Linked DNA regions of Homo sapiens: region 2 is linked to region 1. Evidence: fine-mapped expression QTL. Tissue or cell type: testis. Region 1 holds a variant in brackets; the other region holds the start of a gene. All regions are shown on one strand. Distances are from middle to middle.

Region 1 (2,925 bases):
TGCTCCCACCAAAGCAAGCTTCTCCAGCGATGTGTGCCACCCTTCTGTTTTCCCCTGACTCCAGGGCACGGCCCCCAGAGCTTTCTCCACTTTCTCCCATATTGCCAAGTTTCTCCTCTTCACTGGATTATCACCATCTATACAAAAGCATGCTGTCATTTCTCCCAATTTTGATGACCCTTCTCCTAACCCCATTTCTTCTGCCTGCAATCACCTATTTCTTTGCTCCCATTTTCAATAAAGCTGTCAAGAGTTATCTATACTCACTAACTCCATTTCCTCTCCCTCTCTTGTCTTTTAACCTCACTCCACCCGCTTCTGTCCTCTATACTCCACAAACACATTGTGGAAGATCTTTGTGTCGCTAAACCCAATGGGACCAGTTACATTCCACCCAGCTGACCCCTTCCTCTCTCTTGATTCATGTCTTCTCTTAGATTCCACAATACCACACTCCTGTGGTTTTTCTCATAACAAATTTTCCTTTCTTTCCCCTCTGATTTTTTACTTTTTATGGCTCAGAGCTCAGTCTTCCTCTCCTCTCTGTCCACACACATTCCTCTTGTGACCTTATGCAGTCTCACAGCTTCAAATACCATTCACACGCTGATGCCCAAGTTCATAGTCCACACTGCGGCCTCCTGACATTTCCTCCTTTGTCCAACTGTCTTTTCGACATCTCCACTGGTGCTTTACCCACATTGGATTCTCCACACATTCAACACTGAGCCCATTCCCAGCCTTCCCTTCTCAGCTGTTAGCTGCCCTGCTCTACCAATGTTTTGCCTCCCCCAAACCTGGGGTCATTCTCATCTGTTATCACTCTTGAACATTCCATATCCTTAGAGTGAGGGAATTGTTTTGGCTTTATTTTAAACTTGTCCAGCAATCTTATTATTTCTTACCATCTCCAGGACTACCACTTTATTCTGAGGGACCACAATCTCATGCCCCTGTTTCCCAGTGGCCTTGGATTTGGTGTTTACTTTCCTGACCCTGACCCTACCCCACATCCTCTGGAGTCTGTCCTAGATATAGAAGCCAGAGTGGCTCATTGTAAATGTCTCTTCCTGGTATCCCTTACTGCTGAAAACCTTCCTTCTTCTTCTAAAATGGCTTGCTAGACTCCACATAATCTAGCCCCACATTATTTTC[C/T]TCACTACCAAATTTCTCCCAGTTCTCTCTACTCCAGATGTTCTGGCCACCGTCTTCCATTCCACTAGGCTTCCTCCAGCCTCGGGGCCTTTGTCCAGATGCTCTTTCTGCTGAGAAAGTCCTTGCCATAGATACAGAAATGACTAATTCTCCCACCACCTTTAAGCGTTTTCAAAATGTCCTTCTTAATAAAGCCTACCCTGGTGATATGGTTTGGCCAAAATCCCCCACCCAAATCCCATTCTGAATTGTGGTTCCCATAATCCCCACGTGTCATGGGAGGGACCCTATAGAAAGTAATTGAATCATGGGGGTGGTTTCCCCCATGCTGTTCTCATGACAGTGAGTGAGTTCTTACAAGATCTGATGGTTTTATAAGGGACATTCCCCTTGCTTCACTCATACTTCTTCTTGCTGGTGCCATGTGAAGAAGGATGTGTTTGCTTCCCCTTCTGCCATGATTGTAAGTTTCCTGCAGCCTCCCCAGCCATGCCAAACTGTGAGTCAATTAAACCTCTTTCCTTTATAAATTACCCGGTCTCAGGTATGTCTTTATTAGCAGTGTGAGAACCAGCTAATACACATAGTCAGTATATTTTAAAAATCATGACCAGCTGCCTTTGATACTATTTCTTTTCCTTGCCTTATTTTGTTTTTCTATTTGTCATTTAGTATATTTATTATTTGTGTTCTCACACTAGAATGTAAGCTCTAAGAGGACAGAGGATTCTTTTTTGTTGTTGTTCACTGATGGTTCCAGGGTGCCCAGAGGAGAACCTAGCACATATTAGGTACATGTTAGTTGAAACATGACCATAATATACTTAATTCAGCAACCTATCCTTTATGAAGTACTGCTGCTGGCCCCACAGAGGCACAGGAGGTGCATTGACTTACCTGCCCAAAGGCACATGGCACACAGCTTGGAAGCCACCCAGCTGGAATTTGAACCTAGGTAGTCAGACATCCGGAGGCCTGCTCTTAAGCACTTTGGCAAAATACCTGTGCTTCTCCAAGAACTGAGCATCCAGGGTGTCTTTTTCCTTTCTGTGTTGCTACAAAGAAATATCTGAGGCTGGGTGATTTATAAAGAAAAGAGGTTAATTTTGCTCATGGTTCTGTAGGCTGTACCTCTGCTCAGCTTCTGGTGGGGGCTCCTGTGCTGCACCAAACCTAGTGAGAAGGTCAAAGAAGAATCAGGCACTTGAAGGGGACCAAACCTGAGAGTGTCCTGGATTCATAACAACCCACTCTCAAGGGAACTCATCCATTCCTTTAGGAACCAATTCATCTCGTGAGATGGAAAACTCACTACCATATGAACAGCACCGAGTCATTCACAAGGGATCTTTTCCCGTGACTCAAACATCTTCCACTAATACCTTCCTCCTAATACCATCACGCTGGGGATTAAATTTCAACATGAGCTTAGGTAGGGACAAAAAAAAAACATAGCACAGGGGAACATGACAGATAAACCTGCCCTCAGTGATGGAGCAGTCCAGTGAGAGAAGTAGATATTAAACTCATAATCAAGCCCTATACTCAACTCACCTCAAGTCCTCTCTCAGGTGTAAACACTCTGTCTTCCAACTGGCCTACCCACCCCAGGAATATCTCCATATGGGTTTCATCCGTCACTTTGAAGCGAGTCAGTTCTGGTAGCAGCAGGTCACTGCAGGTCTTAAAAAGAAAAATCATAGCAACAACATCTGTAAAAAAATCATAATTAAAAAAACTCGAAAGTGAACTATGGTGCATTACTTTTCT
Region 2 (2,925 bases), 5.4 kb after region 1:
AAGGTAGACTCAAAAGGATTTTATGATCTAGAAAGGAAGTCATAATAAAGAATCACAATGTATTTTTTTCTATTATAGATCCCTTTAAAATTAAACTTAGCATCTACTCATAGATATAATTAAGTAGCCAAAATATTAGTGTTCTTGATTCACTAGAACTAATTTCATATCTTGACAAATAAGGAAATATGAGGGTTTTATTTTTTATTATTTTACTTGTATGAATTTATTGACATTCGATCAGAATGATAAAAATAGGAGAAGCTGAAAATTCCCATAAACTCTTGGGGCTACAAGACAGCACTGTTCACTCCAATCCTTGCTGCTGTACAAAGAGAGCAGACACTGTTCCAGTATCTCACTCCATCACCAGCACCAGCCCAACCTCCACACCTGCCATCCCTCCAGTGGTGCAGGTGGAGGGCTGGGTGATGCTGTGTAAGCAAAAAGAAACTAGGTTCCTTTATAAACTCTTATTCTTTATAATCTATAAATACAGAATCTTGTTAATTTGACTCCTATTGACTTGTGATTATATAAGATGACTTCACAATCTACATTTTACTTTTTTAGTAAATATCAAGTGTGTTTTATATTTACAATAAAGCTGGAATTAAGAAACTTGATCTATAATTATTTTCAGATTAACTGATTAAATAGCCTGGCAATCTGTATGCATCAGCTAAAAACTACCATGATAAATTTATTAAAGTAGTTAACTTAAAAAATGTAAAAAAAGTATTTCATATATTTATTATGTTAAAATATAATAGAGCATGTATTAAATAATTTTATACATGTAAAAATTTAACCTTTTGAAATCCATATGGCAACATATGGGGAAAGCTCTAAAGACAGTCAAAACTTGAATCATTCAAAACATCTCTTAGGCATTTATAAAAAGGATCTGTTCTCCCAGATGTGATGAACCAAGCTTCCCTGGTGGCATTACCAATGAGAGCAAACAATTTAAAAAATTCTAAACATCTAACGTCAGAGGAAAGAAAGATAAAGAAGTTCATGAATTTATGTATAATATGTATATAACACCTCTTTCCATGAAATGTTTGACACTGCTTATAACAAATATCCATCAAGATAGGAAAATATGTTTACAATTACAACATTTTTACCAAAAAACGGTATACATCATGCATCGACCATAAAAGTTAGCATTATTTCTGTGAATGAGTTGTGAACAGGTATTTATTTATTTATTTATTTATTTATTTACTTACTGAGACAGCGTCTCCTTGTGTCACCCAGGCTGGAGTGCAGTGGTGCAATCTCAGCTCACTGCAACCTCCACTTTCCAGGCTCAAGCAATCCTCCCACATCAGCCCCTAGTAGCTGGGACCACAGGCGTGCACCACCACACCAGGCTAATTTTTATATTGTTTGTAGAGATAGCGTTTTGTCATGTTGCTCACGGTGGTCTCAAACTCTGAGTTCAAGCCGTCCACCCACCTTGGCCTCCAGAGTGCTGGGATTACAAGTGTGAGCCACTGTGCCCAGCCTGGAGACAGTGTGAACATACCATAAGGATCGGGTTCCTAATGGCCAATGAGCAGAGAATGAAAATAAGTCTGAGTTGTGGCTCAAGGCTGCTCCAACTTGGTCACAATTGGAGTCCTCCTGTCCTGTAAGGGGCAGCAATTCTTTTTGATAAGGAAAAGGCACATTCTGGTGGTGAGCTTTCCTTTCTGTTTTGGGGCCTCAGCACAGTATTCTGTTGCTCTGGGGGTTTACAGAATGTTTGGTGCATAATAAGGCATTTCATGTGACATCACGTCATACCCAGGGACCCACTTTATAAAAACGGAGACGTGACGGTGGGGACGTGACCACAGCACTAATCTCACCACACATCACACCATCAGAAGCGTCCAGTCCAGAATAATGGGACAGCCTACGAAGATACATCTGCTGGGCCAGCTCAGAGGTGATGTCCTGTGAGGATGAGGGGTCATTTTTTAAAATTCAGTGTAGGTGCTAAGTCAATGACCATTTCATGTGCTACATTTCCAACATATAAAATCATTAGGTTTCAGCAGAAGTGGCCTCTTCAGTCATCATATCCACTTGTGAATGTGTGATTTTCATCTAGACAGTTGAGATTTCTGTGGATTTTAGAAGTCCTGATTTCCAAAGGATACACTCAGAATTCCACTGAATGCAAAACTCCAGTCACCACGTGGGCAGTTCAGACTGCTTGTGCCAAAGGAAGGGAACCCTCTTACAGAATGACTGATTCCCAGTATGGCATTTCTTGTGACACCACATCAGACTAAATGGCCCACTTGATAGAAAGGGAGGTGCTGCAGTGCACATGGCATGCCAGGCCACCTAGAAGAGGTCCTACTGCTGCAGCAAGGTAGCTGCCCCTGCCTTCAGTAGGGTGTGCCGTCACCTCTCCATGGAGCCGGGGAGAAATAAGCTTGACACATGGTATCCACGTGGGTATTTCTTAGGACTTTCTTCTCCAGTTTTAGCAGTGAATGGAACCATTCCCTGATAAGAGCATGATAAACACAGACTCAGACCTCCAGGGACAGGAGCTGGTTCATGGCCCAGGCAAACCAGAAGAGATGCTGTCCAAGTGTGATGACAGCCTTGTATGGAAAGAAGGGAAAGATATGAGCATCATTTGAAGATTTGAGGCTGGCTGTAGTGGCAGAGACTGTAGTTCATTCCAGGAAATTTCCTCTGCTAAGTTTTTCCAGGAGGACATGCTAGCAGCCTCCTGGGTGAGCTGCTCCCAGGTCTCACATGTAGTGACCCTATCAGAGAGGCCACAACAGTGGGCTTTCAAGGGTGTTGGGCTCCACCTCCCAGATCCCCTTCCAGAACAGAAGGACTCCATTTCCCTGGCTGCCGAAAACATTTTGGGCTGGTAGATCTTCAGGAATTGCCTTGGCTGAGAGT

Evidence for each region.
Region 2: LINC01020 starts here. The variant in region 1 is fine-mapped to the expression of LINC01020 in testis (GTEx, PIP 0.98).

What each region holds. Positions count from the first base shown.
Region 1 is chr5:5,038,583-5,041,507 of GRCh38, reverse strand. LINC01020 (long intergenic non-protein coding RNA 1020) reads right to left here. Exons shown (of 7, transcript NR_026994.1): 2 at 2,710-2,838. Among named protein-coding and RNA genes, the nearest start is that of LINC01020, 5.7 kb to the right of the region's middle. RefSeq lists enhancers at 1,305-1,544, 1,565-1,664. The variant C/T (reference allele first, on the strand shown) is at 1,156.
Region 2 is chr5:5,033,150-5,036,074 of GRCh38, reverse strand. It overlaps LINC01020 (long intergenic non-protein coding RNA 1020), which reads right to left and starts at 1,716. Exons shown (of 7, transcript NR_026994.1): 1 at 1,538-1,716.